Homo sapiens: one gene and its partner. The protein of the gene in region 1 interacts with the protein of each later gene in a pairwise test. Each region holds a gene or a part of one and is shown on either strand. Other genes may lie near its edges.

Region 1 (3,651 bases):
AAATAACAAATACTTAAGATTTTAAAATTGGAAGTTTAGCTTAGAAGATATTCAAGCAAAGAGAAGTGTTGACTGAGAGATGCTCATATTGCCTAAATGACCTCAAATGCTCAGAACTGGTAGTTGCATTAGAATACAGGCTCCCAGAGACTATGAATAGAACATATGGCTGTATTTCATAATTTATTTACTATTTAAATATGAGGCAGATAGTAATAATTATGATTATGCAGAAATATGTTTGGAAATTAAGAGGAAGTGGTATATAAATTCTAGTGTCATATATAGTATTTAATTTAAAAATGAATGTTATTTAAGTTGATCTTAAGTCTGAGATGATATTAATATACTTTGTTTCATGCTTATTTTATAAATGATCTGTCTAGTTTGGAAGCTACTGGGTTCCAACCTGTTACTCTTTTTGCTATTCTTTAATCTCCTATCAATCATTTAACTACCCTTCACTGTCCCTTCGCCCACCATTAGGATATAAATGGTAGATAATTTCAGGGTATTGATGGGATATTTCATCTCTCTAAATAATTATCATTAAGTAAGATAAGTATTAATATTTAAATTTGCAGGTATGTCTTGAAAAAATGGAAGATATTCAGCTAGCCATGGTTATTGCCCGTTTATATGAATCTGAATTTGAGACTTCATCCACTTATATATCCATCCTAAATCAGAAGATTTTGGGTTGCCAAAAGGATGGCTCAGGATTCAGTTGCAAAAGATTACATCCTGATCCTTTCCTGCGTAGTCTTGCCTATTGGGTAATGAAAGATTACACCCGAGCCTTGGACACATTACTGGAACAAACACCAAAGGAGGATGATGAACATCAAGGTAGGACGTTTTGTGGATTTCTTTTTTTTCTTTTTTAAAGGAAGAGATACTTTCTGAACTAATGTTCACTTAGATTAAGAAAAATCATTACCAGATTTGCTTTTCAACTTTGAGAATTTATTATTAAAATTTCTTGTGTGTCTAAAGGATTAGATAGGATTACCATCCTATTCTAATTACGTATATATTTAACAAGCATACAAAATGTTTGCCACATTCTGTAGCTCTTTTTACATAATCATATAGCCATTTTTTTTAAATGGAAATTTTGGCTGTTACACGTATTGGTTTGTCACATGGGCCTGGAAAAACTTTATGCCTCTGTGGTAAATTTTCTTTTTTCCTTGTTATCCTAAATAATTTAGATATTACAAGCACTTAAAGGATATTTATCAGCATTGTTTTCAATAATTTGAAAGGAATGGAACATTTTAAGTTTTTGTCAATAGAATAGTTAAATACGTTTTAATATATCCACATATAGAAACAGTGTGTCATTAAAAATTGAGGTAGATACATATGTTAATATGTGCTGTATTTTTAAGTGAAAAAAAGTAAGATGCACAGCAGTGTGGTTCTTGTTGCATTTGGCATATGTATGTTGTACAAACATGCACCTGAATGTGCACACATGTTATGTCTGCCTCCTCCATTTCCTTTGGTTGTTTCCTGAAACAAATCATAAGAAATGAAATACTGGTCATTGGTCACTGGCTACCTTTTGGGAATAAAAATGAGGAGATCCTTGTCTTTGACTTTTGACAACTTGACCATGTGCCTTGGAGAGGATCTTTTTAGGTTGAATCTATTTGGGAGTATTTGAACACCCTGGACCTAGATGCCTATCTCTTTCCCAAGACTTGGGAATTTTGGGCTGTTACTTTATTAAATGTGTTTTCCTCACCTTTTCCCTTTTCTTCTTCTTCTGGAATGCCCATAATATGAATATTTGTTTACTTAATAGTGTCCCATAAATCCTGTAGGCTTTCTTCATTCTTTTTTTTCTGTTCCTCCTTCTTCCTTTTTTTTTTTTTTTTTGGTTTGCCTGAGTTATTTCAAAAGACCTGTTTTCAAGTTCAGAAATTCTTTCTTCTGCTCGATCTAGTCTGTTGTTGAAGCTCTTGATTATATTTTTTATTTCATTCATTGAATTTTTTAGCTCTAGTATTTCTGTTTGGTTCTTTTGTATGATATCTATCTCCTTGGTGAATTTCAAATTCACATCATGTATTCTTTGCCTGATTTCATTTAGTTGTATATCTGTATTCTTTTGTATCTGAATGAGTTTCCTTAAGACTATGATTTCCTTAAGAATTATTTTTCTGGCATTTCATGTTTCCTTGTGACTAAGGTCTGTTACTGGAGAATTAGTATTTTCCTTTCCATTCTTTTCCTTTGGTGTCATATTTCCTTGCTTTCTCATGGTTGGTGTGTTTCTACATTGATTTCTATGTATCTGGCAGAAAAAGTTGCCTCTTCTAATTTTATGGAGTAGGTTTCATAGGGAAAGACTTGTTACTATGAATAGGTCCTGAGGTGTTGGTTTGGTGGAGTGCATTGGTTAGATGGATACAGTAGTGTAGTCTCCATGTAGCTTCTTCACCTGTAATCCACATTAGTGGCATTTGCAATCCTCTCAGTTGCCTAGGCTGAAAGAGTTTGCGGTGATGGCCATGTAGCTTTGCCAGGTGGGCTCGCTGGGCAGTTTTTCAGGTTGGGGTGCATATGTGCACACAATGGGTCAGCCAGCTTAGGGTCTGGTTGGCTGGGATTGGGGCCACAGGTCTGTTACTCTGGCCAGGAGTGTGGGTACATGGTCACTTGGCCAGCCTGGAGGTGTGCCTGCCAGAAGCAGCCCACAGGGCTCATATGTGGCCTCACGGCTACTCAGCTGGCCTGGGGTTTTGTCTGTTAGGGGTGGGGATAAGGCTATTTCTCAGGCCCATGACACGATTGCATGGCTGCTCAGCTGGCCTGGGGGTGTTTCTGCAGGTGTTGCCCATGGGTTATTTGTATACCTGTGATGCAGGTGCAGGGCTGCTCAGCTGGTCTGGTACTATGTTAGCTGGGGTGGCAGTGAGGCTGCTCCTCAGGCCTGAGGTGTGGGCATAAGGCTGCTCAGCTGGCATGGGGGCGTTTCTGTTAGGGGCTCATGGGGCTATTTCTCAGGTCTGAGACTGGTGCAAGGCTGTTCAGCTGGCTAAGGGGTGTGCACACTGGGAGCAGCCTGCAGGGCTGTTTGACCAGGCTGGGATGTGTCCACCAGGGATAGCCCACAGGGCCGTGGAAGTGGGCTCTTGGCTGCTTGGCTGGCCTGGTGGTGTGCTGCCAGGGGCGGCTCGAAGGACTATTTCTCAGGCGTTGATTGCAGGCGCAGGGCCTTTGGCAGGCCAGAACTCTGAGTGCAGGGAGCAGGGGCGCTGCACGCTGTTTCTGAGGTCCTGAGTGTGGGCATGTAGCTGCTTTGCTGGCCTGGGGGCATATCAGCTGCTCGTAGGCTTGGAGACCTCTCCCATTTGGGGGAGGGTATGTATGTAGTGGTTTGGCTGGCTCAAGGGCAGGTTCACCCTGGGCAAGACTGCCAGATTGTTTCTCTGACCAAAAGTGTGATGGTAGGGGTTGATTTCCCTGCCATGCAGGACCAAAGTCATAGCCAGTCATGGTCCTAGGCTCTGCATAGCTGGGATTGTAGCATTCAGCTACCCATGTAGGCTTGGAATGAAGACGGGTCCCCAGTGTTGGAGAGGTACAGTGACTCCTGGCCCCCAGAGCAGTGCGCATGCCAGAGGTGACTGGTCTCAA
Region 2 (3,651 bases), on another chromosome or scaffold:
CCAGTGGCAGCCAAGGTGGGTGTGGAGTGCATCCGGCACCAGCAGTTTGCTTCTATGGCTGCTTTGTTTTTCACGCTATGGAGTCTTCACTCCAAGAATGCATTCAGGATGTAACGTGCCCTGAAGTAGGGACATTCGGAAGTGGATACATTTAATTTGCCTCTGAAATGTCCTCTCTCTTCAGGTCATATATACCAGAAGTTCTGAGATTGAAGAGCTGAAAGCCACTATTGAAAATCTGCAAGAGAATCAGAAACGATTACAAAAGGAGAAAGCAGAGGAAATTGAACAACTCCATGAAGTCATTGAGAAGCTGCAGCACGAGCTGTCCCTCATGGGGCCTGTGGTGCACGAAGTCAGCGACAGTCAGGCTGGCAGTCTGCAGAGCGAGCTGCTCTGCTCCCAGGCCGGGGGCCCTCGTGGGCAGGCCCTACAGGGCGAGCTCGAGGCTGCGCTGGAAGCCAAGGAGGCCCTGAGCCGGCTGCTGGCTGACCAGGAGCGCAGGCACAGCCAGGCCCTGGAGGCCCTGCAGCAGCGCCTCCAGGGCGCAGAGGAGGCTGCGGAGCTACAGCTGGCTGAGCTGGAGCGCAATGTAGCCCTCAGGGAGGCTGAGGTCGAAGACATGGCCTCCCGGATCCAGGAGTTCGAAGCGGCCCTGAAAGCAAAGGAAGCGACGATTGCCGAGAGAAATTTAGAAATCGACGCTCTGAACCAGCGGAAGGCGGCCCACTCTGCCGAGCTGGAGGCCGTCCTGTTGGCCTTGGCCCGCATCCGCCGCGCCCTGGAGCAGCAGCCCCTGGCAGCCGGGGCGGCGCCTCCCGAGCTGCAGTGGCTCCGAGCGCAGTGTGCCCGCCTCAGCCGCCAGCTGCAGGTGCTGCACCAGCGGTTCCTGAGGTGCCAGGTGGAGCTGGACAGGCGGCAGGCCCGCAGAGCCACAGCTCACACACGGGTGCCCGGGGCCCACCCACAGCCTCGCATGGATGGTGGCGCCAAGGCCCAGGTCACCGGCGACGTGGAGGCCTCCCATGATGCTGCTTTGGAGCCGGTTGTCCCTGACCCACAGGTGGGCTCCCCCCGCGGGCCATGGCAGGGTATTTTTTTTTACTCTCCTTTTCTCCTTTGATGTCAATGACTTCTCTCTGCGCTGGGCACTGGGGGCTGCAGTTGTCATGGTGGCTCATGACACAGCGGAGAAAGGGGGCCTGAAGCTCGGGCCAGCCTGGGCCTGTTCCGTGTCAGTACGCAGTGAAGCTGGGCTGAGGATTTCACTGTTTTGTACCATTTTAAGCTTATCGTTTTAAGCTTTTAAAAACAATTCTTTCTTTCACATAATAGGGACTGTCCAGTGAAACGGAGCTCACTATGTGAGGAGGGTCCGCTTAAGCTGCTTCTCTGGTTTCTAACCAAATGGTTTGTCTGTCGATGAGCAGTGCCTGTGTGAGATGTGGCGAGCGAGCTCTTCTTTTGGAGCTGGAGGCCCTGTAGGGAGTCGTCTTTTAAGGCTTCCACTTGTATTTGAGCAGAACCTTGGGAACTTGGTGCCTACCACCCCCACACCAGCTGGGTCTTTGTAGAGTGGCTCCCACTCTCAGATGCCCCAGTCCACCTTGCTCTGTGGGGTCGTCCTGGGTCGGGGCAGCTTTCTGCTGGGTCCTCAGCCCCGTTCCCATGTGGCCTGCTGTGGACCAAGGTGCTCGGCTGTGGATGTCACTGCCACCTCCCTCTGGCATCCCTGCTGGCTGCCGTACTGGTTCCCAGCTCCAGGCCACCTGAGGGGCAGCCCCAGCAACAGCCTCCTGCATGCTCAGCTTTCCTCTGTCTCCTCTGTCAAGGGTGATCTGCAGCCTGTCCTGGTGACGTTGAAGGATGCACCTCTCTGCAAGCAAGAAGGCGTGATGTCAGTGCTCACCGTCTGCCAGAGGCAGCTGCAGTCGGAGCTGCTCTTGGTGAAAAATGAAATGCGCCTGAGTCTGGAGGACGGCGGCAAGGTGTGGGGAGGGGGGAAGGCGCGAGGTCCCCCCGGGAGAGGCTGGACACGCGGCAGCAAGGTGTGGGGAGCGGGGAAGGCACGAGGCCCACCCGGGAGAGGCTGGACACGCGGCAGCAAGGTGTGGGGAGCGGGGAAGGCACGAGGCCCACCCGGGAGAGGCTGGACACGCGGCAGCAAGGTGTGGGGAGCGGGGAAGGCACGAGGCCCACCCGGGAGAGGCTGGACACGCAGCAGCAAGGTGTGGGGAGGGGGAAGGCGTGAGGCCCCCCTGGGAGAGGCTGGACACGCGGCAGCAAGGTGTGGGGAACGGGGAAGGCACGAGGCCCACCCGGGAGAGGCTGGACACGCGGCAGCAAGGTGTGGGGAGGGGGGAAGGCGTGAGGCCCCCCTGGGAGAGGCTGGGTGCAGAACATGTGGGTCTTGCCCTGGGCAGAGGCGGGTATTCTGCTGAGGTGAGGAGCACAGTCCGTGCCTGCAGTGACATGTTCTCTGAATCCTTTCTGTTCTGTAACGAGCTGTCCATAACTGTTGTGAAATTTCGTACGTGCTTCATTTAAGCCACTCTGTAGAAACAATCAGTTGGGTTTTTTTCTTGTAATTGATCCAAATGGATTTAACTGTGCTCGAGGGTTAGTCCTGGTTTGTCTTTTCATGGGAGGACCACATCGCCCCCGTGGGCCTCACCTCAGCTCAGGACTTTGATGGCCAGCGTCTGTTTTACTTTGAAAGGCCTCAGATTTATTCTTGTAATCTGTTCACCTCACTCCATATTGTCACTTGAAAAAAAGCTGGCACTTCTTTTCCCCGGGGAAGGAGGTTGCACCTTGACCATCTCAAATTGTAGCAGGGTGGAGATTTAGCGAGAAAAGCGGGTGCTGGTGCTTCTCCCACCCAGTGCACCAGGGGCAGGTCCCCAGTGCCCCTAGGAAACACCTGCGCAGGAGCTGCCCTCTCCTCAGGCCGCATCAGGTGCAGATGGCACCTTTATTTTTTTTCTCTCTTTTTTTTTTTTTTTGAGACAGAGTCTTGCTCTGTCGCCCAGGCTGGAGTGCAGTGGCACGATCTCAGCTCACTGCAACCTCTGCCTCCCGAGTTCAAGTGATTCTGCAGCCTCAGCCTCCCGAGTAGCTGGGACTGCAGGCATGCGCCACCACACCCAGCTGATTTTTGTATTTTTAGTAGAGACGGGGTTTCACCATGTTGGCCAGGCTGGTCTTGAACTCTTGACCTTAGGTGATCCACCCTCCTCAGCCTCCCGAAGTGCTGGGATTACAGGCGTGAGCCACCACGCCCAGCCTTAGATGGCACCTTTTGATGCACTGTCTGCACCTCGCCTCCTCCAGTCCAAGGCCCAGCGCAGCCTCCCTGGACACACAGCCACCCACCCTTCTCCTCCTTCTCCTCTGGGACACACATCTGTCCACCCTCCTCCTCCTCCTCCTCCTGGACACAGTCGCCCACCCTCCTCCTCCTGGACACACAGCCGCCCACTCTCCTCTTCCTCCTCCTTCTCGACACACAACCACCCACCCTGCTCCTCCTCCTCCTCCTCCTGGACATGCAGCCGCCCACCCTCCTCCTCCTGGACACGCAGCCGCCCACCCTGCTCCTCCTCCTCCTCCTGGACACACAGCCGCCCACTCTCCTCCTCCTGGACATGC

The links.
Region 2: the proteins of DMXL2 (region 1) and PCNT interact in a two-hybrid assay, tested with the Homo sapiens proteins (one large-scale study listed by BioGRID and IntAct).

Annotation. Positions count from the first base shown.
Region 1 is NC_000015.10:51,483,271-51,486,921, reverse strand, and holds part of DMXL2 (dmX-like protein 2), read left to right. Parts: intron 1-584; coding exon 585-849; intron 850-3,651. UniProt on the Homo sapiens protein: May serve as a scaffold protein for MADD and RAB3GA on synaptic vesicles. Plays a role in the brain as a key controller of neuronal and endocrine homeostatic processes.
Region 2 is NC_000021.9:46,411,005-46,414,655, forward strand, and holds part of PCNT (pericentrin), read left to right. Parts: intron 1-184; coding exon 185-1,063; intron 1,064-1,832; coding exon 1,833-1,988; intron 1,989-3,651. UniProt on the Homo sapiens protein: Integral component of the filamentous matrix of the centrosome involved in the initial establishment of organized microtubule arrays in both mitosis and meiosis. Plays a role, together with DISC1, in the microtubule network formation.